6 separate regions of the Homo sapiens genome follow, and regions 1, 2, 3, 4 and 6 are each reported to be linked to region 5. Evidence: microRNA targets listed by miRTarBase, many of them from high-throughput screens and not tested one by one. Region 5 holds a microRNA gene; each other region holds the end of a gene's coding sequence. Distances are between the middles of the regions.

What was found. The annotated mature microRNA hsa-miR-590-3p reads UAAUUUUAUGUAUAAGCUAGU and lies in region 5 at 1,536-1,556, shown strand. An mRNA with a match to its seed (bases 2 to 7 or 8) in the 3' UTR can be bound and repressed. Matches are read on the target gene's strand: a 7mer-m8 pairs with bases 2 to 8, a 7mer-A1 pairs with bases 2 to 7 and ends in A, and an 8mer does both.
Region 1: the mRNA of MXI1 is a reported target of hsa-miR-590-3p. The part of its 3' UTR that is shown has no 7-base or 8-base seed match.
Region 2: miRTarBase lists SEMA3D as a target of hsa-miR-590-3p. Seed matches in the 3' UTR shown: 7mer-m8 at 2,830-2,836, 7mer-A1 at 2,494-2,500, 7mer-m8 at 1,714-1,720 and 7mer-m8 at 1,105-1,111.
Region 3: the mRNA of NCKAP1 is a reported target of hsa-miR-590-3p. Seed matches in the 3' UTR shown: 7mer-A1 at 1,967-1,973, 8mer at 1,979-1,986, 7mer-A1 at 2,001-2,007, 7mer-A1 at 3,227-3,233, 7mer-m8 at 3,509-3,515, 7mer-m8 at 4,720-4,726 and 2 more.
Region 4: miRTarBase lists GGCX as a target of hsa-miR-590-3p. Seed matches in the 3' UTR shown: 7mer-A1 at 4,054-4,060 and 7mer-m8 at 2,780-2,786.
Region 6: the mRNA of DCAF7 is a reported target of hsa-miR-590-3p. Seed matches in the 3' UTR shown: 7mer-A1 at 3,463-3,469 and 7mer-A1 at 3,780-3,786.

Annotation. Positions count from the first base shown.
Region 1 is chr10:110,283,986-110,289,061 of GRCh38, reverse strand. It overlaps MXI1 (MAX interactor 1, dimerization protein), which reads right to left. Exons shown (of 6, transcript NM_130439.3): 6 at 1,697-4,238. The coding sequence ends at 4,075. Among named protein-coding and RNA genes, the nearest start is that of SMNDC1, 18 kb to the left of the region's middle. RefSeq lists an enhancer at 3,176-3,677.
Region 2 is chr7:84,995,306-85,000,381 of GRCh38, forward strand. SEMA3D (semaphorin 3D) reads right to left here. Exons shown (of 19, transcript NM_001384900.1): 19 at 248-4,560. The coding sequence ends at 4,135. Among named protein-coding and RNA genes, the nearest start is that of SEMA3D, 190 kb to the right of the region's middle. RefSeq lists an enhancer at 4,142-5,076.
Region 3 is chr2:182,921,594-182,926,669 of GRCh38, reverse strand. NCKAP1 (NCK associated protein 1) reads left to right here. Exons shown (of 31, transcript NM_013436.5): 31 at 852-5,076. The coding sequence ends at 968. Among named protein-coding and RNA genes, the nearest start is that of FRZB, 57 kb to the right of the region's middle.
Region 4 is chr2:85,545,472-85,550,536 of GRCh38, forward strand. It overlaps GGCX (gamma-glutamyl carboxylase), which reads right to left. Exons shown (of 15, transcript NM_000821.7): 15 at 1-4,655. The coding sequence ends at 4,463. Among named protein-coding and RNA genes, the nearest start is that of MAT2A, 8.8 kb to the left of the region's middle.
Region 5 is chr7:74,189,718-74,194,793 of GRCh38, forward strand. It overlaps MIR590 (microRNA 590), which reads left to right and starts at 1,481; the gene lies at 1,481-1,577. EIF4H (eukaryotic translation initiation factor 4H) reads left to right here. Exons shown (of 7, transcript NM_022170.2): 3 at 1-20; 4 at 105-201; 5 at 530-589; 6 at 5,024-5,076.
Region 6 is chr17:63,588,790-63,593,865 of GRCh38, forward strand. It overlaps DCAF7 (DDB1 and CUL4 associated factor 7), which reads left to right. Exons shown (of 7, transcript NM_005828.5): 7 at 211-5,076. The coding sequence ends at 383. Among named protein-coding and RNA genes, the nearest start is that of TACO1, 9.6 kb to the right of the region's middle.

The DNA of each region.
Region 1 (5,076 bases), not on the chromosome of region 5:
TTCTAGAAAGACCAACTAATCACTAAAACTGATGCTGCATTAATCTTATAAAGCCTTCATTTAAGAAATTCTATAGGAGGCTGGGTGCAGTGGCTCACACCTGTAATCTCAGCACTTCGGGAGGCCAAGGTGGGCGGATCACATAAGGCCAGGAGTTCGAGACCAGCCTGACCAACATGGTGAAATGCCCTCTCTACTAACAAATACAAAAATTAGCCGGGTGTGGTGGCACATGCCATAGTCCCAGCCACTCAGGAGGCTGAGGCAGGAGAATTGCTTGAACCCAAAAGGTGGAGGTTGCAGTGAGCCGAGGTCACACCACTGCACTACAGCCTGGGTGACAGAAAGAAATTCTATAGGAAATAAAAAATAACTACTTTATGTTAAAGTATTACCTACCATGGAATTTTAAGTGAACCAATATTTAGGAACAGTCTTTTTCTGTAAGATCTGGAGTCAAAGTAACTAAAATTCAGGATTAAGGATGCATTAAAAGGTTGCATTCATCAGAGAAACTAGAGAAATACACCCCTTTTAATTTCCTTAGTGCTACATCTTCCTAGATGGCAGTCAGGGAGTGGGGTGGTAGTTTATATATATCAGCTTAAATCCTTACAACCCTTCAAGATAGAGGTAGTACTTATAATAGCTTTTCAGGAAGAAAAGGGCTCCATGAAGAAATCAAGCAACTTAACTAGGGTCAGCAATGTTGGAACTGGGATTACAGTGTAATTAAAACACTTGCTTTTCCCACACTTTACTGTTCTGGGTTAACTGTTGGGAACCTGATTTTGGTCAGCAACTTTGCCTCAATAATCCTCACTGCCTCTTAAAATTCCTTCATAATGCTAAAAGCAGTCATTGTCAGGGAGATTAGAAAGGCATTTCTGTAGGAGTTCTCATACCTATTCTAACCAGAAACTTGAGTTGCAGTGACTTCAGAATCCTCTAGTCATAACGCGCTACAGTAGGTTTTACCTGTACCTTTTTGAGACGGAGTCTCGCTCTGCTGCCCAGGCTGGAGTGCAGTGGCTCGATCTCAGCTCACTGCAGCCTCCGCCTCCCAGGTTCAAGATTCTCCTGCCTCAGCCTCCTGAGTAGCTGGGACTACAGGTGCATGCCACCACGCCCAGCTAATTTTTCGTATTTTTTTTTTTAGTGGATAACGGAATTTCATCATGTTGGCCAGGGTGGTTTCAAACTCCTGACCTCAAGTGATCTGCGCACCTCTGCCTTCCAAAGTGCTGGGATTACAGGTGTGAGCCATTGCACCTGGCCTACCTGTACCTTTTAATATAAATGTCACTCAGGTGTTCTATAAATAGGGTACCCTAAATAAGATTAGTGGAACTTCCAGACTTGTTTGCAATTTGAATAATAGTGTAGCTAAAGGATGCTCCCAAAAGTTATTTAGAGAACAGATCATGAGAATGGCTTTGTGTCCTACCTGAGGCAGTTAATATTATTATTAATGTGGCACATTAAACCACATGCAGTTAGGTTATATGGAGTTACCAGTCAGGCTCCTGTTTAAATTGCAGAACAGGAATGGCAATTATAATTCAAACTGCCATTTGATTTGGCATTGATACTGATTTGGTATCAACAGACATTTAGGAGATAGTTACCTCTTAAGGTGTGGATACCCATTCATGTTTTTGCCTTCATAAAGAAGGATGGTACAAAAAGAAAGGTATTCTTCGTTCACAGTTTTTATTTCTTCCAATTAACTTTTGTGTCTTCAAAGTTGATTTGTCTTTTAAAAAATTAATACTTCTTACTCATACAATCTACACCACCCCAAGGAAAACAAACCCAGGGAAGGGTAATTTAGGGGGCAGTTAAAATGTGCACTATAGGTTTATAACAAATGCTTTCCAGCCCATAATCCTGTACATATGCAACAAAATGGCACCTCAAGTTCATCTGAATGAAGGCCCAAATAATGCAAGCGAAGGCCATGAGAATAACAAAACAAACAGAAGCTTAGTCACTGGCTTCATTCACTTTGTATGGTAGCACAGTCTTCAAACTGTCTCACACTTGATCAAGAGTAAGCAAACACAGAGACAACATCTTGACTCAGCCATTAGTAATTATAAGTGAAACCAGAAATAATTTACCTGGGCCACAAAAAGGAATTGTTTTGTCCTGTTTTTCATTAAGTCCCTAGCACCTGAAACGTAGCAAGTTCTGATACTGGGCTTCTAAAGGCATGCAGTTTTTCACTCACATCTACTTCAAAGAATTTCTTCCACTGAAACATAGCACAATCAAGGAAAAACTTCTTCTGGAGGCAAAGGAAGAGCACAAGTATATGTTGAGGCGTAATGTATGACCAAGATGGTACACTATATATAGAAGCAGTGAATGCTGTTAAAGTGTCACTCACAAAGGGATAGTCTAACATTAACACACAACTCAACTGCACTGCTAAATATGGTTGTCTTTATTTTCTTTTTCCTTGCCCAGCCCTATCTAAACATAAAATAAAACTACAGGACTGAAATTAACAATCCATTAAAATCAGCAATAAGTTATGAAAATCATAAAGCTTTTTTTTTTTTTTAAGTAATTAAGGGTAGTTAAATTATTTAAAGTATACAAAGTCCAAACAGCCAGGGGTAAGGTCTCCAAGAGGCCTTCCCAGGGTAAGGGAGAGGGCCACAAGGGAACCTTGGAGTTTGAAAGACAAAGGGAACACATGACATCAAAGTGCAGGCTAGAAATTTCACTTAGAAGAAAATAACATTACTGAAAATATTCGTAAGAGTAACAATAGCACCTGCACAGTGGGACTGTGAGGAAGAGAGAGACTGCCTGTAGGAAAATGGAAGCAAATCTTTACATTAAAATGAGACAAGTGCTGAACTTACTATGTTAACTATGATAGTGTGTCTACTATAGATATCAGATGGTTAAAAGCTGGTAAAAGGTAATGATTCTAAAAACAAAAATAGCATTGACCCTTTTTCTACCTAGCCCAGACCTCATTCATTTTGTGCACTATAAAGAGTGAGGTGTGAGGTGTTTTATCATTATCAAATGCTGCATCAAAATAGATGATTTTTTTCCCCATGTGTTTTTCCACTATAAAAGACATCTATTTTTTTTTATGGATAAGCTTTAAAAAGATGTCATTTTGGTTTTCAACACATATAAACAGTTATCAAAATCTGAAATAAAAATGCTGCTGTGGCTCAGACCTTGGCCTGCTAATCTGCGTGCACAACTCTTCTGACCCACGCAGACAAAGAGGCACATGGAGCTTTTTCCTTTTGGCCCCCCCAATCCATACTCATAGGCCTTGTAGGATAGAGGCTGTCATGCATGGACTGCTCCCATGTGGCCTAAGGGCAGCAGGATGGAGAGGTGGCAGCTGGGTGCCTAGTGCTAACAATGCAGGATAAGGTTAGCTTGCTTAGCATGGAATCCAACAGAAAGTTGAGCTGCATGATGATCCCTTTCAAAAGGCTTCATGGGAGTCTCTCCTTTTGCAGAGCATGAAATGAGCTTTTTTCAAAAAAAAAAAATAATAATAAAGGATTGATCATCCACAGGCTTCATGATAAACTGTCCCAGGCTGAGTTTTAATAGCTCATTATTAGCTATCCAAGATTAATACCTGATTTTCTTGTCTTTTCATTCGAATAGTTTTTATTTTGCTTTTAGGACCATAAAGCTCAGGAAGGGTTCATAACCCCATCCTTAAATGTGTCTACTCAATGTAGTATGAGCAAACTAGAAAAGAGAAAGAGGATGGCATCTCCAATGTCCTCTTCTCAATCAACTCAAATCAAGAAAATTTCACACAAGTTTTCTGCTGCCATTAAAAATTGTGATTTTTCCAATATGAATATTCTGAATATTTGTTCTCCTTGGGAGGCTCTGCCCCACTTTTTGCTAAGTATTTGCTTAAATACAGGTCCTCTGACCCTTTTGTTCAAGTATAGTTTTGTTTTGTTTTGTTTTGTTTTAAAGAGGAGACTGCATCATGAACCCAATTTAAGAGATTGTTTGTATTGAATTGGCCCAGTGAATATTTTGCCCTGCACTGTTATGTCATGCTGGGTTCTATGAAGTGAATGAAAGTTTGACACTGGCACTGGAGTAACCCTCGTCACTCCCAATACTCGGCAGGCTGCTGTGGTCATCAATGTCACTGATGCTGGTGGTACTTATATTGTCCACTTCTCCATGGGAGAACTCTGTGCTTTCAACATCCACTTCAATCTCCTCTGCCAAAGGAAAAAAAAAAAAGAAGAACATTAATTATCGAGTATAGCGCACCTTCAAAAACTAACAGCATGAGGAAAAGAGGTATAAGAAATGTTACACAACAAGCTTATTATCAGTGATGTCTGGAGAACAGAGGAACAAGGTGAAGAGACAGGAATATTTTTTGCCAAGGGGAATGTCTGATATACAGTGGTGGTCTTAATTTAGGCAGCAAATTTCCTAAATCCTTTGACGCCAGTCCGTCTGGACCTCCCTAAAGCACTTGGCGTATTTGGGAATTAGTGCTTAATATTAAAAGGTCCCAACCCCCAAGTGGTTTAAAAACATCTGTTTTGCATTAAACCACAAACTAATTCTCAGTTCTGTTTATTAATCAGGGTTGCCTTAAAGGGTGGGCAGGAGCATAAACTTAATATAGGCAAACTAGAAAATTTACCCATCCAAGCCTTTGGTGGTGCCATTCTACAGATAGTTCAACAGACTTCTAGGATTCATCATAAAGATCTTCAACTAGTCAGTCAAACAAGTCATTATAAAGTAGAGTTTGAGGTATATGTCTTAGATTTAATTTTCTTGCATCAAATATAGCTTGAAATAAGGGCCTGAGACTTAAAAGTCTTCAGATTATAGTGAGATCCATTTTGGTGGTAGTATACAGACTTAAAAGCCAAACATTAAAAAAAAAAAACACCACAAATACATATTTGACTCAGCTATCAATAGATAATGTTGCTGGACGCAGTGGCTCACGTCCGTAATCCCAGCACTTTGGGAGGCTAAGGCAGGAAGATCACTTGAGTGCAGGAGTTTGAGACAAGCCTGGGTAACAAAGTGAGA
Region 2 (5,076 bases), 11 Mb from region 5:
ATAACATTTATCTCAATCCACTAAAACCTAAATTAAATCACAATAAAGCTTAGCAATATAATGGTATCAAATTGGGTGGGACACATTCTTTTCTTTCATAAATGAAATTACTGCATACTTACAGTGTAAAATACATCTACTGAACATTTCAGAAAATATTGCATCTTATATTTTCTTTAGTCCTATTTTATATATAAAATTTACTGTATTTGGGGTTTGAAAACAAAATTTGCACACAAACCAGTAGTTTTTATAATCATAGAACAGTCATGTTTGCATTTTATTATAATACAACCAAAATATACATTTAACAATTTTTAATTATTTCATACTACAAGACTACATTTCTTTTAAAATAGCAGAATTATAAATTCAAAATTGATTGCTAACCACTCACAATACCAGAATTAAATTACATGATTAACTAGGGCATCTGACACATTTTGCCCTTTCCCAAAAATCATCTATCTCAAACCCTTTCCATAAATACTTTATACTATAAAATATTTAAATGAGAGGTATAAGTCATGTGTATGATCCTGTCTTTGCACTCCTAATGTATGGAATCTGGGAATCGATTTTATTTTACCTGACTTGTAAGATGAATTATTTAAAATTGTGATCATTTACTATGATAAAAATACATCTCCTATAAAAACACTTCAAATATCTTTTTTTTTTTTTGGTTTGTTTCTAAATTATCCATTCCCAATAAGGTTAACCAATTCCAAAATGTTTTCTAAGAAAAATGTGACATTCTAAAGGGAGGCTATTTCAGTTTTGATTTCCATTTGTATTATATAAATAAATATGAAATACAACATTTAAGTTTAAGAAAATCAGTATTTAATGAATGCTCTTATTATTTTTTGGACAGCTGAATGATATCAAGTTGTTCTTGGAAATTCAATTATGATAATGAAAACAAGTGACTACTAATAACTTATTGTTTAGCTGAGTCTGTAAAATTCAGCAGGAACAAAACATACTAGAATATGAAGAACCAAAATATGAACCAAAAGCAAAATTCAAGAGTAAGACCATTTTGTAGCCAGCATATTGTAAAGAGCATTATTTTAGCCAACAGAATGATGAGACTTTATGAATTTTAATTCTTCCACTACTGTTGTGGCTTTTGCAAATTACTAAATTTCTCTGTGACTACTTTTCCATTTCTTAAGTAATTTGGTTGGTTTCCAAAAGTCAATAATGTGGATGTAGTGTTTTGAGCTCTTTGGAAAAAAGGACTCTACATAAATTAATTAGACAATTCATTTCTAAATAAAATCTCAAAATTTACAATAAGTTGAATGTAAATGAATGCAGACATGCGGGATTCTATTTAGCAGCATAAATTGCTGAAATGAAATTCAGAAAAGAACACACAAGGCAGACAAAGACAAAAGTATTAGAGACAAGAAAAATACGAAAACATGAGTAAACAGGCATTTTAAGATCCCCTCCGCAGAGTCAATTTCTTAGCATATTTGAAACCATTAACTATACTTTTCTTTTTCATTATTTTAAGGCAAATTTGATAAAATAGTCAGTGGTGAGGAAGTATATAGTGTGTTTGTGGATTTAATATATTCATACTCTTTCTCTAAATGTTCTAGACAACTAAAAAGCTAAGAAAAAAACACATTTTAGATATTCTTTATCTTTAAAAATACATATAAATATGTGTACTCTATGTTGTTTTTTATTGTGTGAAATTTTATTTTACTAATAATATTTTTAATATATTTTAACTAATTATCATAAATCAAGAGTATTGTATCCAAAGCAGCCAGAATATTAGATGTGGTCATAAAATAAGTTTCCAAATTTTGTCTGAATAACTAGGATTAGAAAGAAGTAACTAAAAAATGGTTTGGACATTCAAATTTGGATAGAAATAAAATTTATTTTCATAAGTCAATCCTAACACTTGAGCTTCATGTAAATTTTCCAAAGTCATTCATATTTTGATCATTACTGTCGGACCCACAAATATTTGGAAATTTTTTTTAAATTAAAAATGTTCCCACTTAATTGCTTTGAGCTCGCTATGAGTTCCTGGAATATTTTGTCCAAGCAAATCTATAATTACAAACACTGTTGTTACGCTATTCAATTAGAAGTCTGATCATGCCACACTGTTCTTCTGAATTACTTTTTAAATGAGTGATTTGTTCTGGTTCACTTTTATTAAAATTATTCCTTAGCTGTTCCTTATAGTGAAACACCTACAAATATTCATCAGTATAATATCAAAAGGGAGTACTCAATCTCATATATCAGTTTGACTACTTTGAGATAGGTAAGCAATGCAAATAAAATAAAAATAACAGAGAGAGAATGCTCTCAACATAGAGCCACAGATCTTGCATTAAGTTGCCCTCTAATCACAGGGTTTTCTCACAGACTTTTCTTTCAAGATATGTAGAATGCATGAGAAACGAGCAATGTCTGTTATTTTCTGAAAAGCTGCCTTCCATGTGAGGAAGTGACTAATTTTTCATTTCACACTATAAAGGGCGTGAAAAGGCAAAACAGAAGAAGGCTAAGGGTTCTGTGTTACAAGAAGGAAAGGTGAGTTCTGCTTAAACAGACAGGAAACACACCATGCATATTCAGAGGGAAAGTCAAATTGAAAACATTTGAAAGTACTAACAAAATATGAAAGATGTTTATGTTAATATTGTGAGTTTGGTTCTTTTTACATGTAGCAGGCTTATTTATTGTTAAATTACAAAAACAATACTACAATTACAACAGATTAACTCAGCAATGAGAAAAGGTTGAGTGAAGATGTCAAAGAGTTAATTTAACCCTTTCCGTTGTTAAAATTTTACACTCGTTCTGTTATTCAACAAATATATATCCCCACTCCCCAGAAATGTCATTTTCTTAATTCTCTGTGTGTTATATATTGTTTTCTCCTATTCACTCAAATATAATCACAAAATCCAATATACAGGAGAGAATAAAGGCAGTAAAAAGAAATAATATACAGAGTATGATAAATATTTTTTAAAAGAGAGAAAATATATACTGAAATATCATTGGTTATAAATAAAATGTCTACTCTTCCTATGATTCTTCAGAAGAATTTATGTTTCCTCAGATTTTGCTAGCAGTTTGTTATAATCTAGATTTTTTTTAACAGATGAATTACAAATTGGCAGCTACTTATACCCTAGTGAAAAGAGCTCCATTACATTACTCTCACTTTATTTGTGATTGTTCTTCCTTTTCATGGGGATATGAGTTTTCCCCAAAGCCAGAATTTATGGCTGTCTTTCCTTCTGTCTTCTAACAAATCCCATCTGCATGCCTTCCCATCAGGATGCATTATACATCATTATGTTTTCCTTGTTTTATTAAAATATTTTCCCATATCTTATTAAAGTATTTATTAAGCATTCTGTCCCTGTAGAGCTTAGTATATACTCTAAAAAACACATAACTAAGCACCAACTTCTCTCTGTGAACCTGTTACTCCTGACTAGTCAATAGAAATCCTGGGGGAAACATTAGTGCCCTTCAGTAAATCAATGTTGTAGTACACTAAATTTAACCCCAGTGGCCAGAAAGAAATAATGCACCTCTCCAAATTCCTATACCATTCTCCAGGAGTGAATGGCTCACTGAGAAAGTTCCTGTTGATAATGGGAGTTGTCTTAATTTGTGTCTGACCTCTTATTCCCTACCACAAGGTAGCTGGTTCTCAATAGGAATGATATATCTGTTCATAAGAACATAGCACAACTGCATGGTAAATTCCATGCTTAATGGACATTCGAGGGAATAAAGCACCTTATACACTATCAAATTCGGGGCTTGCTTAGCTCAACTATTTACATGACAATAAATTCCAAAACTCAAAACATAAAACATTTACAACTGTAAACCCCCTATTTTTAGGATAATTCTTATACTTTGCTTGTGCAAGATTTGTTCTTGGAAAACTGGTTCAAATGAATTTTTTGCCCTTTCTTATATTCATCACATATTGTCTTATTCAGATTATTGTCTTGTGCCTTAGCAAAACTCCATGGGAAGCATTTATGAATTACTATAAGGGATATACAAAACAGAAGGCAATGTTTTTATAGGTAAGGAATTCTTTTCTTTAAATTAAGTAGAAAACTACGTGGCTACAGCTCTAGGGAGCTCATCCAGGTCTCTGTGATGTCTTCGATTTCGTTTCTTCTTCATTTCCTGCATGTGCTTCCACTTTGGGCCCCCCTTGTTTCTCTGTCTCCGCTTCTCCCTGTGCCACATCTGTTCGCAGTACTGGTCGAGGCTGAAGTTTGGGCTGCTAAGGATTTGGATGTAGTCTTTGTATCTCAACCGTGACTCAGCCAATAGATCCTTGACCTTCCCCTCCTCATGCTCTGCCCTCTGGGTATTTTCCATCTGTTCATTCTCAATGACATTCAAAGTCAGCTTCACTATGGTGTGGATGAAAGTGTGCTCCTGGGCTTTGCAGTAATACATCCCAGAATCCTTCTTCTGCAAACTTCGAATCAGTAGCCCATATTCCGTTTTGATGATTCTTTCATCGGGCTTCAACTGCAGAATTGGAAAAATGTAGGTAATAAATTAAACACAGAGAGAGCTAAGAGCAAATGAAAACAGGCTACATAGTTTTACTTAGATGAATATGAAAGACATATTCATTGTCTCTCTGTCTCTGTCATCAAGCATAATATTGTCAGCCATAGTTAAAAAGAGTAAAAAAATTCAACAAAAGTAATAGCCCCCAAACTATATCCTTAATTTTTCACATTTGAATCTTAGTAAGTCTAACTGAACCTTTGGAATGCAGTTATTTTTTTTCTCTCAATATGCAGATAGGAATGAAAAACTGTGAAAAGTAATGAAAAACTGGAAACCATCAAGTGGCCTTCTTTACAGAGATTTCATATACAAATTACTGTATCAAGATCATAAATTAGCACCTGAAATGTGGAGCAAGAATGCAACATTTACAATTGTATAGAACACATTGTATAGAAAACGAGCTTCAGTACATGCTACTACCTATAATGTAGAATAGAACAATAATTCCAAGTGGAATTTACTGCT
Region 3 (5,076 bases), not on the chromosome of region 5:
GACTGACATCACTCATATTTTATCATTTCGGTAATATCAGAAGATAACAATCAAAGGTTAGCATTAACTGTGGGTATTCTTTTATGAACAGTTTTTCAACCTGTTGGAAAACACTCAGGCCTTGTATTTTTCTAGTGTATTGGTGTCACCTCTCTTCCAGTTTTCTGAGTTTTCTACATTCTAACTCTATTCTGCCCATTTCTCGTAATTTTCTGTAATTCTCTGTGCCTAGTCACTTCCCTCTCTGCAGTATCTGTGAACCAGCTCTTGCTTGTTTCTACCACGTGGCTCTTTCCCCACTTAGAGTTATTTTCCTTACCTGCAGAAATTGGATTTATCCTAATGACTTAGCACATCCCACAGCTCAAATCTTTTTCCAGATAGTCTTTCTTGATTACTTTGGCCTACATTAATCTTTCTTCTGTTTTGAATTCTTACAGAATTTACAGCTTTCCATTTCATTATAGTCGGTCTTATGTTTGGTTTTGCTTCCTAGCTTAGTCTTTGATTGCCAGGTAGAGTTGATAGTACAAAAAAAAAATATTTTTGTATTGTCTTTTATTTCTAGTATATCAGTGAGGAAAATGAAAGTGCTCAATATATTCCTGTTGATTAAATAAATTTAATTGAAAAGTAGCTCTTTTTAAACAGTTTGATATACATTCACTGTGGCACATTTACATTTTAGATTAAGTAAAAGGAAAATAATATGTGTCTATTGCTAATAAGAACAATATAGAAGTTATGCCTTACTGGTTGTCAATAAATGTTCCCATTATAAATAACTTATGATTTTTGTTTATAAACAAGTTATAAATAACTTGTTTTGATGGATTTTTTGAATTTTACAGATTGTACAAGAATCTCCATTCCTTACAATGGATCTTTTGGAATCTTGTTTTCCTTATGTCTTGCTGAGAAATGCATACCATGCTGTCTACAAACAAAGTGTTACATCTTCTGCATAAAATTACCTACTTAATCAAGATAAGCACGCATTTTTGTTGCCTTGGTTTTACCTGTAGACTGTGGAACTATTTTACCTTAAGACCTGAAAAAGTTTTGTGGATTATAAATTTCTTTCATACGGTTGTATTTTCTGATCATTGGTTTCTTAATATGGTTGTACTACAGTATACTTGGTTGATTTAGGTTGCACATTCACTGAATTCACTGAGATTATTCCTATAATTTTAAAGTATCATTTATTTGAAAAACATACATTATCAACATGTTTTTGATATTTGATAATGAAAAAAATCTTTGCTTGTTTATTTCTGAAAAAGAACTGTATTTAGTGATTATTTTAGATAGTGATATTATAGTATTCATCTGTGTGTAAATTATTTCATATAGGGAAGAGTTCTGATCTGTACCTATGGTTCTTATTGAAAACAACATTGGATGTGCATTTCTGTGATGTTATGAATACATTTCTACTTTATTTTGAAACATTTGCCAAACTAAATACTGTAACACTGTATAACATTTAAAAATGTTAAAGAACTGCTTAGTATTAGAAGCAGATCATTTCCCAAAATTCTAAGAGCAGCAGCATATGTTGTTGCTTGTATAAAGCCTAGCGATAATTTTTAGACTAACTTCCATGGTGCCCTGTTGGCATTAGCACTACCATTGTACCCTGCTGTATAATAAACAATCTTAGACATTTATCAACTGTTGATACAAATGTTAGTCCCTAACCACTTTTTATATATGTTTTAAATTTTTGAAATTCAAGTGTACCTGCCATAACATAAAATAAACACTAGACTGTATCACACTTCGATTGATTTCTTTAAGATCCTTGGATATTCGTTCAATAATAATAAAGTTTTTGTTTAAACTTAGTTTGAAATATAAAAAATAATGGTTTAGGAATGTCTAAGTACAGCATTCGATACCAGGTCAGCTATTATATGATTTGTTTAAATGTTTTAAAAAACATTTTATTGAAAAAAATACCAAAATTAGAAAATAAAATTACACAATACTTCTTAAAAATTAAGAACTTAAAGAAAACTTGTATGCTGTCAACTTGCTCATTTTATCTGTAACCAAATAGAGTTATTTAAAAGAATAGGGAAAAAAAATTGAGTGATCATGGGACTAGTGAGAATGTTGAGAACTGCTGCATTAGTCAGTAATGAATGGGAAAGACATAAAAGGGCCTATTGCTTAATAGTTGGCATGGAGGGCAAAGCAGCTCATTTAGTTTGAAAACTAACCCAATGTTTTGCTCTTTGATTGGCATTGTTGAGGCTGTTTCTCAGCAGCTTTGTATATGAATATCATAAAGAGCTTCTGTTCACAGCTTCTTATGTATACACTGGTAACTTGTGTTAAGATAAAAGAAGGCTGCTGTGAACTCAGTTATAATGTTTTTCTTTCTTCAAACATAGAGAGTAGAATGAAATTGAAGTACTATGAGATTATGCTATTATTTTGTGTATGATTTGTCCAGCCTATATTTAAAGTAGGGAGTAGTTGTCACTATCTGTCGAAAAATTGTACTTGTTCCATAAAGATTTTTTAAAAAGGGAAATTTTAAAATGGCATAGTTCAGACCTGAAATAGTCTGATTTACACAGTGAGCAGTCAAAACTAAGATTTAATGCCGTTTGTTTTGAAATATTAGGATCTTAGAGAGGTAATAACTTTGTTGGCAGTGATCTCTGGAGAGGTAAAGTAGGAATTTGGATATGTACACTTTGGAATCATATGTGAAAGGGCATAAGGATGAAAATAAGGCATTCTCTACCACTGCTAGGCTGAGAAAAAAATCGCTCCTCATAGTCACCTGAAGTTTTTGTCCAAATTTTTTCTCATACAGCAAAGGCGGGGGAGGAGGCGTGGCAAAGGTAACTTGGAGGAAAAAGTTAAAAGTAAATTGACAACTACTATTTTTAATATCTTGTTTGTTTTATTTTCTTCTAAACTTACACAACAACATACTATTTTTGTTGTTTTCTCTACATTAATGTGATCATACCATACATACTGGCCTGTAATCTGCTTATTTCACTCAGTAGTAGAAAAAATGTCTTTAATATTCTTTTTAATACCTTTATAGATACCATAACTAATTTAACAATTTCATGGCCAGGCGTAGTGGCACACGCCTATTTCAGCACTTTGGGAGGCCAAGGCGGATGGATCACTTGAGGTCAGGAGTTCAACACCAGCCTGGCCAACATGGCAAAACCCTGACACTACTAAAAATACAAAAATTACCCAGGTATGATGGTGCACACCTATCATCCTGGCTACATGGGAGGCTGAGGTGGAAGAATTGTTTGAACCCGGAAGGAGGAGGTTGCTGTGAGCTGAGATCACACCACTGCACTCCAGCCTGGATGACAGAATGAGACTGTCTCAAAAAAAAAAAGAAAATACTCATTTGGATAGATTGGATAGATTTTTAGACAATTTCTTTTCATTATTATAAATGTATATCTATATCTTGGTAAAGTTGACCTGTTATTTTTTTAGAATAATTTTTCAGAAGTAAAATTGCTTCCTTTCTGCTGCTTTTTCATTCACTTATTTAAGCAAGTATTTTTAGATGCCTGCATGTAATGGTGAGCAAAAAGGTGACCCTTTTATAGTTGAGCTTGGATTTTAGTGATGGTATACAATAAACAAACCAGCTTCTTGAGACGGAGTTTCACTCTTGTTGCCCAGGAAATGGGCAATGGCCTGATCTCGGCTCACTGTAACCTCCGCCTCCCGGGTTCAAGCAATTCTCCCATCTCAGCCTCCTGAGTAGCTGAGATTACAGGCGCCCGCCACTACGCCCAGTTAATTTTTGGTATTTTTAGTAGAGATGGGGTTTTACCATGTTGGCCAGGCTGGTCTCGAACTCCTGACCTCAGGTGATCCACCCACCTCAGCCTCCCAAAGTGCTGGGATTACAGGCATGAGCCACCACGCCCAGCCATGAGCAAACTTCTGATGGTGACTGGAAAGTATACAGGATAATGTGGGGAGGCAGTGGTGAAACTACTTTAGAAGAAAGTGTTAGAAGAAAGTGTCATCTGTGTAAGAGAAAACATTTGAGCTGGTACGTGAAGGATTAGAAGGAACCACAAGTGGGCTGAGGGGAGGAATAATAAAGGCAAAGACCCAGAAGGCAAGCACAAACTTGGCATGTTTGAGAAGTTAGAAGTGTGTCATCTGTGTCTCTGTCATGAGGAGTGCTCAAGTTCCCTCTAGGAGCCTTATGGGCTATCTAGCTCTTTTTCTCTTCTGATCATGTGCTTGCTTGCTTTCTTCTTTGCTTATATAGCAGAGTTCACAAATTAAATCTAATGTAGGCTGGTTAATAAAGGAAATGAACATGAATTCACTGATAGGCTCTTGCATTAATGTGAAAATGTAAAGTCTGTTGTACACCATCAGGCCTTCTAAATGAAGCCCAAATTCTGTAAGGTAGTGAATTGTAACCTACTGATTAGTACATGATCCATGCCCATTCTGTTATAAGGACTTGCCTTTCTGAGACTTCACCTGTATTATTCCTAAGACTTTTGTGAATAATCCTTAAAGTAGTGACTCCTTACATCTTTCTTTCATTTCTTCTTTGTAGTCACTTGAAATGACAGCATGAACCATCATTTCATTTGAAGGCCTGAGCCTGAATTTTCAAATAGACAAAATGCTCTCTTTCTCCGAAGATTTGCCATGACCTCTGCCTTTGGGAAAAAATATTTGAGATTTTAAAATTTTTATTCTGTAGTACAAAAATTATGTTTTTCGTTAATTGGTCCTGTGGAATTGGAAGGAAATTTAATATTTATTGACTCTACTTTGGTATTATTTTCAGAGTGAGAAGTAACTTTAAGTGTATTAAAATTTCATTCATTTTTGCATGAACCAAACTTTCCCTACACATCGCTGTCCTTGACTGTCCAGAGTAAACATGTCTAACTCTGGAATGTTTCATTTCCAATAAAAGTATTCAGCCTGTCATTTTGGGCCTAAGTAAAATGGGATAAATTAGCAATCTGAAGTTAGGATCCTAGCCACAGAGGGCCATGTCTCATTTCTGGTTTAAGTGCACCCCTCATCCCCAGC
Region 4 (5,065 bases), not on the chromosome of region 5:
AATAACCTGAGAATACTATATGTGTATCTTTAACCTTGAATTGTAATCCATAATTAGCCATAATTCAGGAAAATAACCTCAATCCCTAGACCCAGTGGGTGGGCATTTTTTAAAAGCCTAAGCAAGATTTAGTCCTCCTAGTCCACTTAAGCCAAAATTCATGTGTCCTTATTGCAGCAGCCATTCAATGCCATTTTTAAGTTTTCAACTAAGGTTGAGGGCTTCAAACCATTGAAGGCATAAAAACCGCTAAAAGTATTAACCTGGAAGTGGTAATGTCTATCTAAAGTCCTGGCAATTTAAGCCTATTAATCTGCATACATTTTTAAATTATGAGCTTAGTTTTAAGGGTTGTATGATGTTTTCATCTGAGAAGTTCTGAAACGTGATTTCTAGTCAATATCTTGCAGAGATAAATAATGCAAATTAGCTGAAAATGCTATAAATTTCCAAAGGCTTAAATTTCATTTATGGCAGGTTGTGTAGAAAATCCGCAGACCACACTGCTCTTGAACCTAGGAGCTACATGCATAGAGAATAGCCACTTGGATTACATTTCTACCAACATCTGAATGGTGGTCCAGCTTGTCCTGCAAATGTAGAGCCAAGGAGTGCTTGCTTATGCCTGTTTGCATGGAGACTTAAAAACTTGGAAATTTGGAGGCCAGGCGGAGTGGCCTGTAATATAGGCCACTATATAGTAATATAGGCGTGAGCCTATAATCCTAGCACTTTGGGAGGCCAAGGCATGCAGATCACGAGACCATCCTGGCTAACACAGTGAAACCCTGTCTCTACTAAAAATATAAAAAAGTTAGCCAGGCACCTGTAGTCCCAGCTACTCAGGAGGCCGAGGCAGGAGAATGGCGTGAACCCGGGAGGTGGAGCTTGCAGTGAGCTGAAATCGTGCCACCACACTCCGGCCAGGGTAACAGAGTGAGACTTAAAAAAAAAGCCGTGGAAATCTGGGTATGGTAGCTTACACCTGTAATCCCAGCACTTTGGGAGGCTAATGCGGGTGGATCACCTGAGGTCACGGTTTGATACCAGCCTGGCAAACTGAAACCCCGTCTCTACCAAAAATACAAAAAAGCTGGGTGTGGTGGCAGGTGCTTGTAATCCCAGCTACTCAGGAGGCTGGAGAATCACTTGAACCCAGGAGGCAGAGGTTGCAGTGAGCCGAGATGGCGCCATTGCACTCCAGCCTGGGCCAGAGCAAGGTTCCTTCTCAAAAAACTTGGAAATCTGTTGGGAAGTAGGGGGAGGGCAAGGTTAAAACCTATGCAGGTGTGTCAATTAGACTTGTTCCAACTTGAGAACCTGAATTTTGCATGTAATTGAAATGTTCCAGAACAAGTCTGGCAGTTTCATAAGGGAGTTTTTAGATGCCAATACATTGCAGATAACCATATTGGCTACATTAGGGGAATGAGCATGGATAGGTGCCTCCAAGTTGGTAGAATAGCATGAGAAGTTTTCAAAAGTAACCGCTTTAAGGTTATGTTCAGTATTTGCTAAGTAAACAAAGATTCCCCAACCTTGAGGGAGCTTGTGGACCAAGGGGATAGTGTTGTCCTGCCCAGCCTAGGGGAAAAGTATCCTGAAGGTTAATAAGGTGGTGGAGGAACATTAGGCCACAGGGAGCAGAGGGAAAGCATAACAGCAGGGGATGATAAGGGTGATTATAGTTTAGAAAGCATGAAAGTATGACTTAAGGAAATGTCTTTAGGTTGAACATTCTGTATATAACCTGCCTTTCTAAAGTTTCAAAGGGGATGGATACCCATCAGGGGCAAAGATCCAAATCCTGAGGGTAGAATGAGGAGGATGTATACTAAAGTCTTTTGGCTAAAAGGACATTGATAGCCCATTTTTAGAATGGCTACAGTTGCAACCCAACTCTACCCCACTGAACAGCTTTTATTACCAGTATTTACATGACCACTTTTTCTTTACACCTCACCCTACCCCAATATCTTCCTTGGGAAAATTGGTCAGAGAGGTGGTATACTAACAGTTTGGGGAAGGGCAGCATCCTTGCCCATATTTAGAAAAATACTTTTTCAAGTGTCTTCTCCCAAGTAACTCTTGGGACTTTTGTTACCAGTCAAGTAGGTACAGTGAGTTTGGCAAACAACATAGTGGCAAAGTATCTTCTATTGTGTTACTATGAGAGAAGATCTGCAAAAGGATTGAAAATCAGCATCCCTCCCACCCATTCTTACAAAGTAATCAGGGGACCCTGTGCCACAGCCATTGCTTGCCCATATAATACCTTGAATGAATTAGAGATTTTCCACCAAACTCCATTTGGCCTCCTCAGTGGTGGGGGAGGGTGGCAATCTGCTTGACAACTAACATGTCGGCCCTGTCCTGGTCTATCCCTAACTAGATGCTAATACAAAGGTTGAAAATACAGATATAGGTAGTAATGAAAACAGATTTGGCTGGGCACGGTGGCTCACACCTGTAATCCCAGCCCTTTGGGAGGCCAAGGCAGGTGGATACTTAAGGTCATGAGTTTGAGACCAGCCTGGCCAATGTGGGAAACCATGTCTCTACTAAAAATACAAAAATTAGTTGGGCGTGGTGGTGGGCACCTGTAGTCCCAGCTACATGGGAGGCTGAAGTGGAAGAATCGTTTAAACCCAGGAGGTGGTGGCTGCAGTAAGCCAAGATTGTGCCACTGAACTCCAGCCTGGGTGATAGAGTGAAACCCTGTCTTTAAAAAAAAATAGATTCAAGAGGTATCCAGGAGGTAAAATTGATGGGACTTGGCAATTTTAAGAAATGCAAGGAAAAAGGAAGAGTCAAGGCTGATGACCTAGAGATAACAGCTTGGCTAAGGTACAGAGCTGCCATTCAATAATAAAGAATAAGGAAGTCTGAGTTGGGGATGAATGTAAGTTCTGTTTAGGATGAACTGAGCTTGATAGCCCTGTGGGATATCCAGGTGGAACTTAGACCTATACGTCTAGGGCACAGGAAAGAAACCTAGCATCGTTGGAAATCCTGGAGTAGACACAATCATCTGAAGTATGTATACTGAAAAAGCAGTTGCTTAGGAAAGAACCCCCGGAACACTGTCCAAGGAGGAGTGGGGGAGAGTATGGGAAGAGAAGCCTGCAAAGAGATGCAATCATTTACAGAAGTTACTGAGACTGCCAATTTACTACCGGTCTCTGCTACAAGTCCATGAGCTCCCAAAGCAGGGATCCTTTTTCATAACCCTGCATTCTCGCTTCCTAGCTCAGTGCCAACCCTTTGAATTTTCACTGAACTGAGGAGCTTCCTGAGTTACCCTTGTATACCCCAACCTACAAAATGTCTAAGCATTCCCTAATCCCTTACTAAATTTAGTTAATTCTTACTTTACCTCCCCTTCTGCTCACCAAAGGCTAGAATAATACCAAATACTAAGCTTATTTTTAGAGAAAATCTAGCAATCATCTAGATTTCCTTATTTAACTTTGATGCTGCTATTCTGACTGCTCTCATAACTGCTAGTGAAACACTGGGTGTATATAGATAATAGGAACAAAGAAGGAACCAAAATTGCAATGAAGATAAATTACTTTGTGTGCATTTACAACCTGACCACCATCCAATTATACTTTTAATTAAGAAAACATGTTTTAAGCTGCATTATTTCAGATTATCAGTGATTCTGAAAATTACAAGTGGCAGGGTGCAGGACCTTAAGTCAAATAGACGTTAAGTTCAAACCATCAGTCCATTCGTCACTAGCTGTATGTCTTCGGGCAAATTATTTTACCTCTCAGCCTAATGTAATAATGCAGGTAACACTGCTCACGCGGTGTGTTGCACATAGCAAACACTTGGGAACAGTTAGCTATTCATCGTGGTACATTAAATTGCTTTTCCCCAAGAGCCACTTTATTTATTTATTTTGAGACGAAGTCTTGCTCTGTTGCCCAGGAGTGCAGTGGCTCGATCTCGGCTCACTGCAACCTCCACCTCCTGGGCCCAAGCGATTCTCATGCCTCAGCCTCCTGGGTAGTTGGATTACAGGCACCCACCACCACGTCTGGCTAATTTTTGTATTTTTAGTAGAGAAGGGGTTTTGCCATGTTGGCCAGGCTGGTCTCGAACTCCTGGCCTCAAGTGATCTGCCCACCTCAGCCTCCCAAAATGCTGGGATTACAGGCGTGAGCCACGGCACCCAGCCCCCAAAAAGCCACTTTAAACCTTATCCTAGGAGGACAGTTTCACATTGCGTCTAACCTCTTCCTGGCCTCTTAATCTTGGGTTGTTAAATCTTATTTGCTTTATTTCCTTGGTTCCTCTAAGTTGTAATCTCGGAGTTAAAAACAGCTTTAGAACCCCGCCCCCCCAAAAAAAAAAAAAAAACTTTTGAGAATTTTTTTCAAATAAATGTCCATTGCATAGAATGGGTCTGTGACTGGCTGCTTCTACATCTGCACCCAACATCTGGCCCCCTTCAGAACTCTGAGTGGACAGGATCAGGATTTGACTCAGGAGGATTAGAATGTGAAGAATCCGTGTTTGAGGGATTCAGTTCTCCAACTGCCTCAAAGGGTCTCAAGTTTGCATAAGTCACCTCCTGGGCCAGCTGCTCCAGGGAAGGACGGCCTAATATCAGATTTCGAAGTGAGATACAAGTCATCAGGAAGCTGAAAAACAGGAAAAAGCCGACCAAGTTCAAACTCCTGTTTCACCAGAAGAATTTCAGCTAAAGCCCTTAGAAGGCACCTGGTCCTCACTCCTCCCACACAGGCATATATGGGAATCTCCCCCCAAGTGACCCTCCATCTCCCAGCTGGAAGGGTACACCACTCTTTATACAGTCTGGTAGAGGATTCCAGGATAGGGTAGGAACAGCCCACAGAGAGGCTGGAGATAAGCTGAGGCAGAACAAGAAAGCAGGCCATCAGATATAGGCCACTTATTCTTCCAGTAAATCAAGAAGAATGGCAGGAAAAGATACCTAGAGCTAAACTGTCCTTTCCTGTATGACAGTCTCTAGAGTTACTCTCCCCAGGGGAAAGTTACCAAGCTTGCCAACATATGATGGCAATGACAA
Region 5 (5,076 bases):
CCTTGACATACGATGGTGCAGTAAGTATCCTCGGGTTTTCTCTGTCATAGCAGTTGAGATTGTTTTCTTTGCCAATACTTACACTATTTTCCCTTTATCATTAGCTGTTGGGCGATCGGTCACTTCGTGTGGACATTGCAGAAGGCAGAAAACAAGATAAAGGTGGCTTTGGATTCAGAAAAGGTGGACCAGATGACAGAGGTGATTGGTTCTTCTAAAGCTGAACATCATAAAGATTTGCAGTATGCCTACCAATTCCAACTCGTGAACGTTCCTAGTAGAACTCGATTATCTCATAGGTGTGATAGGTTCTCGTGAGCTCTTAAAAGTTTGCGTAAAATCCTAGAAAGAATGGCTGATGCTTCTGCAAGCCTGGCGTTTTTTGTTTTCTGTTGGAAGCAAAAGCTCTTAAAATGATTTCATTGAACCTTCCATCACTTGAGTTGTATGTCTTCCAAATGAATTTTTCCATGTTTGCGCAGCAAGGTAATGACACGACCTCAACTTTATCTTTTTTGTGTATCCTCAGGAATGGGTAGCTCTCGAGAATCTAGAGGTGGATGGGATTCCCGGGATGACTTCAATTCTGGTATCAGTATTTAAAGTATCACCACTTAATTTTTCCTAGGAGCCTTGCTGCTGTTCTCTGTTTCTTACGAGTAGCCCGCCTGGCCGGACTACTTATTTAGTTCCTTTAACAAATACAACTCTCCTGCAGGGTGCCCAGGCATGCAAGTAAGCCTCTGTTAGAGCCTGTGGGGGCAGGACTTGAGCCCCATGCACCTTGTGTGGTCACCTTTGTTAGCCTGCAGCTCCTTGGATGTGTACGGGCCTGGGTCCTTGAGCTCGCTCAGCAGTCTTTCTCAGACTCTAGCCCAGGGAAACTCCTCTGTGGTTTTGTGTATGGCACCAAGAGAAGTACTGTTCCTTCTGGAAAACATAGGATAGAGGTTTGGGTTCTTACATGGTGAAAGGTAGTCCTGATGGCCCTTTTTTTTCTTGGAGGATTGTGGGGAGGTCCAGTCCCTTGATGGTGGACCTGATGCACTTCGCCGTTCTCTTTCTTAGCCAACCCAGGCAGAGCAGCTGGTGGTATAGCACAAAGCATCAGTCCACACGCCAGGCCTCTGCCCTGCAGGGTGATTTTAAGCATTTTTATCATCTTTACTTTCTGTTTTTAAATTACAAAAGTATAATTTTTTATATATGCACATGATAAAAACTTCAGTTGTAACCCAGAAAGGTAGGAAGAGAAAAACAAATTTGTTTTCTTTCCCGCAAACTTGGGATGTGCTGTCAATGCTGTGCTGTATAGAACGTCAGCACCCTCCCCCCATCAAAACAAAACCGGTGTAAAGTAGTGGGTGAGTATGGGAGGGACTGGTGCACGCTGTCTTGTGAGTCTGAGATTTTTAAAAACTCAGCTTTGGCTGAACAGGTGACGACTACCTGTTGAATAATATAGTTCTTAAAAGTCCTGTAGCCAGTCAGAAATGAGCTTATTCATAAAAGTGCAGTATGGTGAAGTCAATCTGTAATTTTATGTATAAGCTAGTCTCTGATTGAAACATGCAGCAGCTGTCTTCTTAGAGCCAACCAGCAGCTCAGGGAACGGCCTTTCCCCTGCCAGTTTGGTATTCGCAGGTGTTATAGAAGTTGCCCACATACTAACGTCTTTCTACCCTTGGCTTAGCTTGGCCACTGGCGCTCAAGCAGAGACACAGTGAACACGGCCATGGCCTGGCCGCCACCAGTTCTGGTGGGAACTGCAGTGTTTTGGTGACATCTCAAACCCTATGTGGGCTCACTCGATGGAGTAATGGCTAATTTGATACTTTATACGTTATTTGCGAGAGTAGATCTTTTTTACTTTTTAATAGGATGGTGCTATTTTTTTTAATGATACCTGCTCATGTAAAAAACAAAATAGAGCAACAGAAAAGTACCAAGAAAGCAAAAACATTTCATCATCAGAAATAGCCAGTGTTAAACTAAGCTTTGTAAAGAAAACTCTGAAGATTCTCATGAATAGTTTGCTTCCTAGAAACCCACCAACAGATTTTTTGTTGTTGTTTTTTTTGAGACGGAGTCTTGCTCTGTTGCCCAGGCTGGAGTGCAGTGGTGCGATCTCGGCTCACTGCAAGCTCTGCCTCCTGGGTTCATGCCATTCTCCTGCCTCAGCCTCCCAAGTAGCTGGGACTACAGGCACCCACCACCACGCCCGGCTAATTTTTTGTATTTTTAGCAGAGACGGGGTTTCATCATGTTAGCCAGGATGGTCTCGATCTCCTGACCTCGTGATCCACCTGCCTCGGCCTCCCAAAGTGCTGGGATTACAGGCATGAGCCACCGCGCCCGGCCCCCACCAACAGATTTGATGAGAGATCCTTGTTCATCTGCTTCACCAGCGTGGTGTGAGCTATTTGTTTCACGCTAGACATTGGTGGTCGAAATCATTTAATCTCATAGTAAAGGGTGTAAATTTACTTTGTACTCACGTGGAAAGGTACACTTCACAGTTTAGTTTGGGGGAAACGTGAAGTTAAATGTTTTAATACTAACTAGGCTTGTTCACTGAACTGTGTAATGTGGGTAAAATACTTTGTAAAGGACCTTATACTCGACTGTATGCCTCCCAGTGTATTTCCCCTAAAGCAGTGCTCTTATTGGTCTAAATCTGTTCAGACTTGCTTTCATTACTTGGTTTGTTAAAATTTATTATTTAACTCAGTCTCTGAACTGGGTGTGAGATCCCTTGGTTTCCAAAACCCTTGCCACCTTTAAAGAATAGAAATCGGCCCCCACCACAGGTGATGCAGTCAGCGCTTATCATTGGAGGTGGTTCTGTGGAGTTGCTAGAACACTGAATGAGCCCGTGCGGTGCTGCTCCTGTGTGCTACAGATCACAACATTTTCGTCAGCTGATCATACCTAACATTGCTTTATGTGACTTTTTTTTTTTTCTTTTTTTTTTTTTTGAGACAGAGGCTCACTCTGTTGCCCAGGCTGGAGTGCAGTGGCATGATTTCGGTTCACTGCAATCTCCGCCTCCAGGGTTCAAGCGATTCTCCTGCCTCAGCCTCCCAAGTAGCTGGGATTACAGGCGCACACCACCACACCCAGCTAATTTTTATATTTTTAGTAGAGACGGGGTCTCTCCGTGTTGGTCAGGCTGGTCTCGAACTCCCAGCCTCAGGTGATCTGCCCACCTCTGCCTCCCAGAGTGCTGGGATTACAGGCGTGAGCCACCACACCCAGCCTATGTGACCTTGATTTTAAAGACGCCTCATTTAATGTTAGTGTTGATTCATTTAATAGTGTTAACATTGAACTCAGGGCCAGCTGTAGTAAGTAGTCTGTGGTGCCATCATTTCAGCCTGTTAGAAAGCTCATCCCACACCGGTTTTGTCTGTAAGACACCTGACAGCCAGCCTGCACTTAAGAACAGCAGACAGCACTTCACACTGCACCTGGGGCCACTTCAGACAGCGATGTCACCAGAAAAAGCCCAAAGGGCAAAACACCCGACACTCATCGTGAAAAGACTTGACAGCTAATAACTGAAACAGGCAGAGCATTATCGTTTTCTGCCTCAGCTGGGATCGTCGCATCTGTGCAGGTCCAGGACTGACTGGAGAAATGCTGCTGGTATCTAGCTTGGGATTACACATGAATTTTAGCGACTGGGTGGATTTGCAAATATGGGATCTGTGGATAATGAGGATGACTGTATAGTGCATACTGCGGGCTCTGGGGGTTCTTCTCAAAGACAAGCTCCCTGAAAGCTTGGAGCCTTGGCACCACTCTCGCAGAGAGTAGCAGTGGCACCCCCTGAGTGCGCAACCAACAGCAGCAAGCTCATTTGTTTAATTATGGTTTAACTTCTTTTCGCCAGTTTTTTTTTTTTTTCCTTGAGACAGAGTCTCACTTCATCACCCAGGCTGAAGTGTAATGGCACGATCTTGGCTCACTGCACCCTCTACCTTCCAGGTTCGAGCGATTATCCTGCCTCAGCCTCATGAGTAGCTGGAACCCCAGGCGTGCGCCACCATGCCCAGCTAATTTTTGTGTTTTTTGTAGAGAGTGAGTCTCACTGTGTTGCCCAGTCTGGTCCTGAACTCCTATACTCACCTCCCACCTCAGCCTCCCAAAGTGCTGGGATTACAGGCGTGAACCAGTCTTTTTACCAAATTTTAACATCAGTAGGTTATACAGTTAAAGTTTAGCTTTCACTGAAGTACAAGCCTGAAGGCCCCTTAAGACCATTGAGAAAATACTCTTTCCTCCTACACACCAGTGGGAATTCAGCATTTCTAAATGAGATGCAGTTTACTTCTGCCAAGAGCCCACTTAGCAGGCACACAAATGAATGGGGAAAGAACGCTTTGCCCCCACAGGAGGCGCCGGTGGGGGTGAGGCGCTGTGCTCTCTGCTCATGCCCCTCTGTGTAGGGCATGGCCAATTTCGGATAACTGCTTTGTTTACCACACAGGTGCTTTGCTTGTAGAATGGCCCACACCTAAAACGCAGCCAAAACAGGAAAATTGGGACTTTGTGTTTTTATTTTGTCTTCATATAGCGTTTTCTTGTGATTTTTGTGTTCTGAGTTGTAAATACTTCTAAATTTCAGGTTTATCTTTTAAAATAGCTGTATAGATTTCTATTAGAAAATAGAGTTCAACCTGCTTTGAGGCTTTCTTGTTTTGCTTAAGCCGTATTAAAATACAGTTTCGTGGTATTAATATTTTTCTACTTTTCATGCAAGCTGAGCATGTAAACAGCTCGTTTGTTTGCTCTCCTAAGATCTTGATTCCTTTTTCTTTGGGAAGTCTGTTAGCGCTGTCATTACTCCACACATTGGCATTTGGACCCACTTTTAACACACTTTATTTTGGAGAGACTTCAGATAGTGGACAAACTAAAGAATTTAAAATGAAACTCAAACAATTCCCAGAACATTATTCTATAAGCAGCTTGGAGACGATAGTTTGAAAAGTAATTCAGTGTCCTGTTTCTTCCTCAGGCTTCAGGGATGACTTCTTAGGGGGCAGGGGAGGTAGTCGCCCAGGCGACCGG
Region 6 (5,076 bases), not on the chromosome of region 5:
CTGCCACTCACTTGGCTGAATAGCTGTGTGATTTGGAACAAGTGCCTTAACATTTCTGAATCTCGATTTCCTCATCGATAAAATGGGGGCTTAAAATAGAACCGCCATCACGGGGGTGCTTTGTAAACTGTGACTTGCTCCTGAAATGCAGGGATCATCATCCGCATTGCCTCACTTGTGACCTTGCTTGCTGGCTTTCTTTGTCCCTAGCGGATGACCACCAGGCTCTCATCTGGGACATCCAGCAAATGCCCCGAGCCATTGAGGACCCTATCCTGGCCTACACAGCTGAAGGAGAGATCAACAATGTGCAGTGGGCATCAACTCAGCCCGACTGGATCGCCATCTGCTACAACAACTGCCTGGAGATACTCAGAGTGTAGTGTTGGTGGCGCTGTGCCCACGAGGCAGGGGCTTTTGTATTTCCTGCCTCTGCCCCACCCCCAAAGTAAGAAGAAACATGTTTCCAGTGGCCAGTATGTCTTTCATTGCTTTGCACCCACTGTTACCAGAAGCTGCTCTAGGAGTTCCTGGCCAGTCACCCCATCGCCCTCTGTGGCAGACTCAGTGCTGTGTGGCGCCTCCTCAGCCCAGGGCTGAGTTTTAAGATTTTCTCTCCTTTCCTCTTCTCCTTTGGTTCCTCAATTAAAAAATGTGTGTATATTTGTTTGTCAGGCGTTGTGTTGAGGAGCAGTTCACGCACTGGCTGTGTCTATTCCTCTGCCCAGGTGTCTCTGTTTGCTGCCCAAGGCAGCAGTTCATGTCTCGTCCATGTCCATGTTCGTGTTAGCACTTACGTGGGAACAAATACCAATTTGTCTTTTCTCCTAGTATCAGTGTGTTTAACAAATTTTAACTTTGTATATTTGTTATCTATCAGGCTAATTTTTTTATGAAAAGAATTTTACTCTCCTGCTTCATTTCTTTGTCTTATAGTCCTCCCTCTTTGCACCTTCTTCTCTTCCCTCAGTGCCTGGAGCTGGTACTGGGCCCCTGGCCCCATGAGCAGTTTGCCTTCTTGAGTCACTGCCTGTGTAGTACATACCTGACCGGGAGTCCAAACCACCTTGGTGCTCTGAAGTCCACTGACTCATCACACCTTTCTTAGCCTGGCTCCTCTCAAGGGCATTCTGGGCTTGTAAACAGACATAGGAAGCCTCTGTTTACCCTGAAGCACCACTGTCCAGCCCATTGGTTCCCACTGGCAGCATGGTAGAGCTGAGAGAAACAGGCTCTCAGGGTACCTGACTTGAGGGGAATCGTTTCATGAAGCTGAACTTCAAGCATATTTCCAGTACATTCTTTCAGAGTCTGTTTTTCCATCCAAATATAAGCCCCAGGCCATTCCACTTAGTGTCTTTTCAATGATAGGCAAGAATGATATCTGAGTTGAACTTCGGTGCTTCTGTTGTTTGAGTTTACTGTGCCTGGTGGTATATTGGGCATTCTTTGGATTGAGTGTTCTGAGGTGAGAGAGTCTTCCCGAGGCATCCTGTCTGTGCTTCCAACCCTGAACAAGACCTTACATGAGAGATGGACTGATGGACTGCGGCAATCCTGGGCTGTCAAGTGGATAGATAGTTAAAAAGCATTATACTGTGGGTAATGAAAAGGGAGGAAAAAAAAAGAAGGAAAAGGAATTATAGACCCCCAGGGTCAGCCAGTTAAGAGCTCTACCCACACCTGTCAACCCCTCTCTCCCCCAGTTTAGGTTCTGAGCAGTATTGGACTTGTAGCCTGCAGTTGTCTTTTGACTTGCAGGCCGCAGGTGTCTTTCTGTTATGTGAATGAGTTCCATGGAGGGGCATATGTGTGATTCCACCGTTAGATGAGCCCTTGGGGCAGGCAGTTTGGGATGTGCTCTTGGGGGAAAGTTGGCTGTTTCCTTGCGCTCTGCTCCTACCCGAAGGTTTTTAAGTCCCTCTGAATTGCTCATCTGAGATTAGTAGAGTAGCAGGCCTGAAGGATGATGGTTTTGTCCTCTTTGGTTCTCACCTGCTTGAGAAGTAAAACAGTAACTTTGTTCTTCTGGGCCCTTAAGCTTTTTTGGTTAAGTCTTCCTTTTCAGAAGTAGATGTCATTATATGCCAAAAGTCTAGCTCTTTGCTTTACCATACAGGGACCTGTCCCAAAGAAAAAGGCTCTTTTTTTAGCCAGCATATTTCCCCTTCTACCCTTTTACTTTGTTGTTCTGATTTTAGGACTCTGGCTGGCCATGTGCTTGTGGTTGCCTCTCCTGCATTTGCCACTGGATTTGCACTGCATCGTTTGGAGATACAAAGCGAGCAGTTCTTGGTCAGAACCCTCCTCTGCTTTTCATTGTGTTTGATAATGGTTACTGGGTCCTTCTCTCAAGGGTAGCAAGGCCAAGCTGATGGCTGCTTGTTTAGGAGGCCATCAGTTCCTTCCTGTGGAGAAGGGTCTGAAATGGAAGTCAGTGGTAGAAGGGGCTGGTCTGCTGGGCAGGGCTTACATCCACTGAGTTCTAAGATTCCTTTCCTGATCTGCACCTACGCCTGGTCTGTATGGTGGAATTTGTCAGCTGGAACTCAGAAACAACAACTTGAAAAAAAAATAATAATTAGAACATATTTGCATAAGATAGCTATTTACTCTGGAAACCAACAACTTTTGAGATTTCCCTTGCCCTGTGGACGCCCAGCTCCTGTCATCCTTCCTTAGGTCCTGCAGTACAGTCTTCCCCTGAATGCCACCGGGGACCCAGGGGGACTCCACCCCCCTAAGCAAGCACACACATACTCACAGTTGATGAGTTGCTGGTCTTTGAGTCCCAGCTCTCTTACCCTCCCTTTACTCCACCAGCCCGACGACCCATGACTGAGGAGGGGATTTCTACAGTCTCAGGATTTAGAAAGTCTGTAAGCCATCCATGCTCCAGAAAGCACCGATCTGTTGTAGTTGCAAAAACAACTCTGTAATTTGTTGAGGTTCTCAAACTGACAGCCAGCGAGACTGGGTGGGAGGCCCTGGATCTGTTCTCCCTGACTGCGGGAGGAGCAGCCACTAGGACTTTAGCAGGAAGCCCACATGGAGGCTCCGCCAGGCTGTGGCCCAGCTGGTGATGGCCCTTTTGCTCCTGGCAGCCTGAGGCACAGCTGCCTGTATTGTCCTCATCTGTTCTGACTGAAGGATGGAGGTGCTGAATAAATTAGGCCTCAGGCCTCTACCACCAGAGAGCTGGAGAATGGGTCCACGTCATTCAAGGACCTGAATTTTTTATGCTCAGGAGCATTGGAATCCTCTTCTTCCAGGGAGGAATTAGCCTGCAAGGTTAGGACTTGAAGAGGGAAGGTATTTAATAACTGGGCGAGGATGGGTGTGGTGGCTCACACCTGTAATCCCAGCATTTTGGGAGGCTGAGGTGGCCAGATCCCAAGGTCAGAAGATCGAGACCATCCTGGCTAACATGGTGAAACCCCATCTCTACTAAAAATACAAAAAAAAATTAGCCGGGGGTGGTGGCGGGTACCTGTAGTCCTAGCTACTTGGGAGGCTGAGGCAGGAGAATGGCGTGAACCTGGGAGGTGGAGCTTGCAGTGAGCCAAGATCGTGCCACTGCACTCCAGCCTGGGCGACAGAGCAAGACTCCGTCTCAAAAAATAAAAAAAAAAAAAAAATAGGTGAAAATTCCTTATAAATCCAGGATTGGCTCTGAGAGAACTGGCTAAGATTCAGGAAGAAACAAAAAATTCAGAATCCTACAAGGTTTTGATGACAATTAGGGCCAAAATTTTAGGAGGAGATGTAGGATGCAGGAGAAAATTAAAGTGTTTTCTTTATATCAGAGGAGGAAATAGTAGAGGTCAGTGAAGGTCTGGGGTAGGGAAACATTCAGACTGTCCATTGCATGGCTGTGGAGTGAGACTGCCCTTAGCCTGGGTCAGCCTTCCTGGGCCATAAATTGGGCATCCGTGATGCTAGGTAACTGTGGGAACAAAATGACAGCTTAGAGCAGCCATGGGTGATGTTTGGTGGTAAAAAACCTACAGGCGTTTGGGGTCCCATGATTGTTCCAGACCATGACTCTTCCTGGTTGTGGGTTTGTTACAGAGCAGGAGAAGCAGAGGTTATGACAGTTATGCAGACTTTCCCCCTCCTTTTTCTCTTTTCTCTTCCCCTTGCTTTTCCACTGTTTCTTCCTGCTGCCACCTGGGCCTTGAATTCCTGGGCTGTGAAGACATGTAGCAGCTGCAGGGTTTACCACACGTGGGAGGGCAGCCCAGTACTGTCCCTCTGCCTTCCCCACTTTGAGAATATGGCAGCCCCTTTCATTCCTGGCTTGGGGTAGGGGAGACCATTGAAGTAGAAGCCTCAAAGCAGACTTTTCCCTTTACTGTGTGTACTCCAGGACGAAGAAGGAAGATCATGCTTGATACTTAGATTGGTTTTCCCAGGGAAGAGGGCGGAGCAGAGCAAAGTCACTGTGAACCCTGGGCCAGGCCCTGGCTGGGCCAGCTCCTGAGAGCGTCTCGTGTTGCAGACCCTTGCCCACTTCACCCACCTGCACCTTCTCCCCCTCTCACAGTGTCACTGCTGCTAATGGTCAAAGTCAAATGTGTGGCCACATGGGATGGGCCAGGTCCTCTCAGGCTACTTTCTGGATGTCATTTTTAAAATATGGAAACATGCAGGTGCCTTCCCAAAGAGGCTTGGACTGGTATATCCAACGAGAAACAAATAAGCTAAAGAAAGTTTAAACTCAAGAAGAAAGATGTTGACAGTCTATGTAACAGCTGGAAAGTTTATAGGCACCCACCTTTGGGACAACCCAGTGATTATGAACATGTGATATCTACTATTTAAAAGAAATGTTCTCACCTTGGGTTGATTGTGGTATACCATGTGTTATGAAAATTGTTGAGCTGAAGCTTTGAATCGATTTAGTTGAGTCTGACTCACTTGCTTTGGTTCCTGTGTATTTTACTACCCCTCTTGTCAGTGACCTTCCTTCCCCACCCCACCCAGAGTGAATTTGTAGCATGATTGTATAAACCTCTATGTAGAAAATGGAGATTTCTTGCTCTGAAATGTTAAGCTCTAACTGATCCATTTCTG